Regions from separate parts of the Homo sapiens genome. Here region 1 is linked to region 2. The links come from fine-mapping of genetic effects on plasma protein levels. A gene starts in region 2. The other region holds a variant in brackets. All regions are shown on one strand. Distances are from middle to middle.

What was found. A credible set is the group of variants that fine-mapping cannot tell apart. PIP is the posterior inclusion probability: the model's chance that the variant is causal. The UK Biobank Pharma Proteomics Project read protein levels with antibody pairs (Olink). The fine-mapping took linkage between variants from a reference panel, not from the people measured, so its PIPs are less certain.
Region 1: its variant is the best candidate, but not a certain one, in a credible set for the plasma level of the CA13 protein (UK Biobank, PIP 0.71).

Annotation. Positions count from the first base shown.
Region 1 is chr8:85,883,779-85,886,697 of GRCh38, reverse strand. LOC124901971 (a long non-coding RNA gene) reads right to left here and starts at 805. Exons shown (of 2, transcript XR_007060987.1): 1 at 704-805. The variant T/A (reference allele first, on the strand shown) is at 1,520.
Region 2 is chr8:85,243,943-85,246,861 of GRCh38, reverse strand. It overlaps CA13 (carbonic anhydrase 13), which reads right to left and starts at 1,404. Exons shown (of 7, transcript NM_198584.3): 1 at 997-1,404. The coding sequence starts at 1,033. RefSeq lists an enhancer at 600-709 and a silencer at 1,070-1,149.

The DNA.
Region 1 (2,919 bases), 640 kb before region 2:
TGAAAAACTGCGTTTCCTCTTCTGAAGGAAGGAAGAGCAGAGGAAAAGCATCTAGAGATGTTGATTTTCAGATCAACTGAAGTGAGAGCTGCTGATCCACTTGTGCTAATTAAAATCAATATCCCGAACAATGAACTGCCGGGATCATCTGGAAACAGGAGACACTTGCCAAATGTAGTATTGTATTGACATGCAGGAAGAAGCCTATGTTTATCCTAAACAAATAGAGGGAAAAAAACAGCCTTGAATTTAGTAAAACCTGGCAACCTTTTTTTCCATAAAATTGATTCTGCATCTTTAGTTTTAACTGGAAGTAGAAATAATCAATCTTATCTTTATTCTAATTAGCTCTCATTAATTTTATTTTATTCTAATTAGTTCTCACTATTGAAACAAAGGATAAATAAACATCTCAGAAAACCTCAAGGCATCCTAGTGTGAGTTTCTCTGCATCTGTTAGGAATACATCTAGAGTTCATTTTATTTTGAAAATAAATTTCAGAGTGGTTAAACCATTTATTGTACCTTACACAATAAATCAATTATTAGATAAGCTAAGAATTTACATTTTGATTTGCACAGTTTGTGAACCACACAGTCACTCTAAGCTCCTCTCAAGAATATAGCATCATCTGTAAGAGAAGCTTTTAGCTGAACTGGGTCATCCAATGAGACTTGGTTACTGTTATCTTTAGTTACTCACGCAGCTGGGGGCACATTCCAATTTTTTTCAGATTATCTTAAAATGTTGAAATCTTGAACTCTGCAAACAGATATAAAAACTCTTATCAGTCTTGACATAATCCTCATTAGTAGAAACAATATTATAAATGAAGTTTCTATTTTCCAGGACAGATGTCCTTTTCAGTAAATGGCCTCTTGATGATTGTTCTGTGAACATCTAAAGCCTGTGATTAGAGCTCTTCAAATGACCAGAAGTCACTACTCAAAATCTTCCTTACCACACAATTACTGGATCATGTGCTTCTCTTGTGCTTCTGTGCTACTCCAGCATGATCCAACTTTTGTTTGGGAGGAAATAGATGTTGTTTGTGTCAGCAACAAACGAATCACTGTCTTTTATGGTAATCTAAAACATTGAAACTTGCATTCTTTTTATGAAATCAAGGATGTGGAAACTATGCCTTAGAAGTATTGATTTCTATTGTGTTACCAAACATTTATTGATTATGTGCTAGATTTAGCATTTTTATATAATTTAATCTAGGCATCACTCCTTTGAGGTAGATTCTAAATTTAACTCCATTGTGAAAAGAAGGAAACTGTTTAATAGTAATTCCTGTATCACCCAGAGTCACACAGTAAGTAGGGATATGAAAATAATTCTTGGACGAGATCACAAGAATCTTAACAGTAGTGGTGAGAGTGGAGAGGAGGAGGCCAATGTGGTGAGAGGTAGAGGGAACTGAAGGGACGATTGGGAACCCTTGTTTGATTCACTTGTCTAGGTGCCAAAGAATTAAAGGGGCCATTTCTAAACTTTCATGAGGCCAGTCTC[T/A]GCTCTTCAAAAGTCATGCTCTCCCTTGAGGCTTCCATATGTGGCTTTAAATCTCTCTTTGGAGTTGAAAAGCACTACATAGGTTTGGGGCTGATATTTCCAGTAAATCTCTCCAAATCTCCAGCTAGTCCCTTGGGTTATCTGGGGCATGGAGACATAGGTTCCCGTGTCTCATTGGGGTTACTCTTAAAAAGGCCATTTAACACCCAATGGAAGTTTAAGAGATGGGTGATAAGGAGCAGAAAAGTATACAAGTAGATTTGGGGATTGCCAAACTGGCGATCAATCACCTATAATTTTTACTGTGTCATCAGCATAGCCTTTCTTCCAAAGTTAAAACTCTTTGTCTGATAAAGGAGGAAATCAAACAATAATTTACAAACAGTTTGTTTTTGTTTTACTTTAAATCCCAAGTTCAATGAGGACCAGATCCTAATAAGCTACAATTTTGTCTTGTTTTCCCCATCTAGAAATTACAATAGATAATATGTTGTCTTTTGTTCTTTGTCAGTGTTGTCAGATTCTAGTCTTTACATCTATTGTTAATTTTCATGATCACTACACCCTCCATATTTGGTTACAAAGCTCCAGGATGCATATGTACAAACCAAACAATAGCCAGGGAAGGACAAAGGTTCATTCATGAGACTGTCAGAGCTCCAGCAGAATATAGAAGCTAATTGTTTTCTTTTAAATGGGAATAAAACACACAGGACAGATTATTCTTGTTGTTTGTACTGTCACAAGAGCAGATAGTGATATTTGTAGCTCATAATTCTTTCCTTTATTCCTGCTGCTAAACATCCACTCAGGCCATTCAATGGAAAAGAGGCAGGAAAGATTTTACTCAAACGTGAATGTTTATAAAAAAGGTCAACAGATTCTCACTGGATTTTGAAATTAGTTTCCTTTAAAACATATCCTTTCTGAGCTACGTTTTCATATTTAATATTAATATCAAACTAATCAAATTTAATAAATTAATTAGATCGTTAGTTCATAAATACTATAACACATTAACTAATGTAATTAATATTTAATATTAAAATCACCTTTTAATAATATTAACAATAAGTATAATAATAATGCCTTTTCACAGTATATAAAAAGAGAGATTTTATATAGGACTTCTGGGCATGAGGTAAGAAGAGGCAACAGGCTCACTTTGATATAATGGATGAATAGTTTAAATTCCCTTCCTTATTCTGCCAGACTTGGCATTTGGATTCTGGTAACAGCCATGGATTTAAGTGTATGAAGGGCAGCATCTCATAGAAGTCTTTAATATTTTGGTATAAAGCCAGATCTGCCTCAAAATGTAATTGGCCTATTTCATTTCTCCAATTTACTACCATTTCTCAAATATAAGCCTTACCCTAAGCCACCTCTGCAAACTAAAT
Region 2 (2,919 bases):
TATTATGTATTTACTTCTTAAATTGACAAAAATTGTATATATTTATGTGTACAACATGATGTTTTGAAATATATGCACATTGAGGAATGGCTAAACTAAGCCTTAATTTTGACAGTTATTCACTATAAGGCTTTTTGGTGTCACTGCGATTATTTCAAATAATTATTATTTAAACAATCAGTTCAGTTTAACGTAGGAACAAGAAAAAATGTTTTACTTTTGATAATGTGTGATATACAAGAAGAAAAGTGTATGTCATTATTATTTATCCTATTAATACATTTCTATCAATGAATTATAATTTCAGTAATCCTTTGCTCACCCTGCAAGGATGAGCGTGGAGAAGAAGAGTGGAGAAGTAACCCACAATGTAACTTAATTTCCCAGCGAGAACCTGAACCCTTACTAAAGTCCCCAGTAGTAGTCAGCCAACTGCAAATTGCTGTGGGAATATTTACAGTAACAACTATTAGGAAACATGCAGTATTTTGTTTGCCACGAAGCCAACTTAATCTTCAGTGTCACAATGCAAGTTAAGATTTCCTAAATATATTTTTAAAGATTTTCTATGATTTGTTTCTCCTAAGTGAATAGTGAGCTTAAAAGACTGAAAGCGAACTTGTCCTTATTTCACTGAAGTGTGTCATCAGACTTCTGATCTCCAAGCCTGTAATTGATACGTGGCTGTTACTAGGCAAAGTCCTTGGCTTTTCAGATGAAGGTGAACTCACACGTATGAACACTTGGGAGTTTGGGGAATCCTGACAGAGATAACACACACCAACGCTCACATCCACCACCAACAACCCGTCTACCCTGACAAGACTGCTCTCCGCTTCTCGCACTGGGCTCCCAGGAGTGCTGCTTAGTTTAAAGAGGAACCGAAAAAGTTTCTCAATGTGCGAGCCCAGTGTGTGGTCAGCGAGCGCCGGGGCGTCGCGCTAGTCCTCTCGTCCCCCGCACAAACCCCCCCTTGGATCAGGAAAAGGCGCTCACCGTTGTGCTCGCGGTATCCCCAGCTGAGCCTCGACATGGTCCCTCGGGGTGGAAGGAAGAGAAAGATGTGACTGAGCAGCGAGAAAGAGGAGGGAGCGGGGAGGGGCCCGGGAAGGAGCCTGCTAGGGCGGGACCGCGGGGCGCCGGCGGCAGGAGTGCGAGACCGTGAACCCGGTCCGGGGCGCTCCCGCCTGCGTCCTCCAGACGGCAGAGGCGTGCGGGGAAGGCGCCCGCGCCGCTGGCTGACTCCTGGGGCGCGAGTCTCTCTTAGTTTGGACTCGGGAATGAGAGATTTGAGTTAGAGGGAGAGACGGAGAGAGAAAGGTTTCCGGGGGGGATCTCCTGCCTTCTGAGGAGTCGTCACTCGGGAGAGGAAAGTGTTGCCTAGAGGACTTCCAGGAAGTGAATGAGTCACCAGAGCCTGGAACTGCCAGGCTGGGAGGTGGGGATCCCGGTGGAGGCGTAAAAGAGGTCGGTGATGGTCGTGGCAGTGATGATTACAAATACAAAACAATAATGACGATGGTAATCACCACCACTGAAAAATAACTACTTATTAAGGGCTTATCGTGGGCGAGGGTCTTAGCTAAGACGTGTACCCACGTTTTCCCATTAGATCCTCTCAGCATTTCCTCGAGAAACACGTGGCTTAAGTTAGAGACACTATGTAACCTGCCCCGGGTCGCTCAGCTAAAGCGGGCGGGGTCGCTGTTAGAGAGGACCAGCTCCCGGTCCTGGGCTGGCTCCATTGCCCATTCATCCTTTCCTTACCTCTTCTCACTCTGCAGGCTTGTGGCTTGGTGAGTGAGGAAACCAAAACCAGTTGTTGAGATTTGGTCCCAAAATTCTGCTGCCCTCCTGACCCCGCAAGAAGGGTTTTCAGGACATCTGCCCTGGATTCTTGGTGGGCTTGTTACCCTAGGACTGGAGTCAGAACTAGCTGCAGAGTCTTGAATTTCTGGCCTGGAGTCGTGAATGTTCTGGGTTCAAAGTGAAAAATAAAAATTGGGTACATGAACCACTTTCTACGTCCTTGTCTCGGGTCAACTGCCTCATATTTTATAAATCCAAGCAACCTCTTTGTAAGGAACCTAGTAAACCAATTTTCAGTAACTCGGATGATTTGGTATGTCAAGATGAATAATGCTCTTAACGTTCTAAGTAAGTATCAGTTCTTGACACCCAATAATAGTGGTTACATGAATGGATGAATGACTGAATAGACCAAAATTGTTAAAGAAATTTTGGTTGGTGGGTCTCAAATACTTCCCAAATTGTTACTTTTATTGCTTGGGTACACAGTTTGTAACCACCCAATGGGTTTACCTTGCCCACTGTCAAGACACAGCTGATTTATCAAGACAGGGGAATTGCAATTCATAAAGGGAAATTCACGTAGAGCCGGCTGTGCAGAGGACTGGAGTTTTATTATTACACAAATCAGTCTCCGCAAGCATTGGGGATCAAAGTTTTTAAGGACAATTTGGTGGGTGGAGGAGAGCCAGTAAGTCGGGAGACCTGGTTGTTTGGGTCAGAGGTGAAATCATAGGGAGTCAAAGCTGTCTTGCATTAAGTCAGTTCCTGGGTGGGGGCCATGGGATCAGATGAGCCAGTTTATCGAGCTGAGTGGTGCCTGCTGATCCATCCAGTGCAGGGTCTGCAACATATCTGAAGCACTGGTCTTAGGCTTTACAATAGTGATGTTATTCCCAGGAGCAATTTGGGGAGGGTCAGAATCATACAGCCTCCAGCTGTATGACTCCTAAACCATAATTTCTAATCTTTTGGCTAATTTGTTAGTCCTGCAAAGGCGGTCCAGTCCCCAGGAAAGAAGGTTTGTTTTGGGAAAGGGCTGTTATTGTCTTTGTTCTAAACTATAAACTATGTTCCTCCTCAAAGTTAGTTCAGCCTATGCCTAAGAAT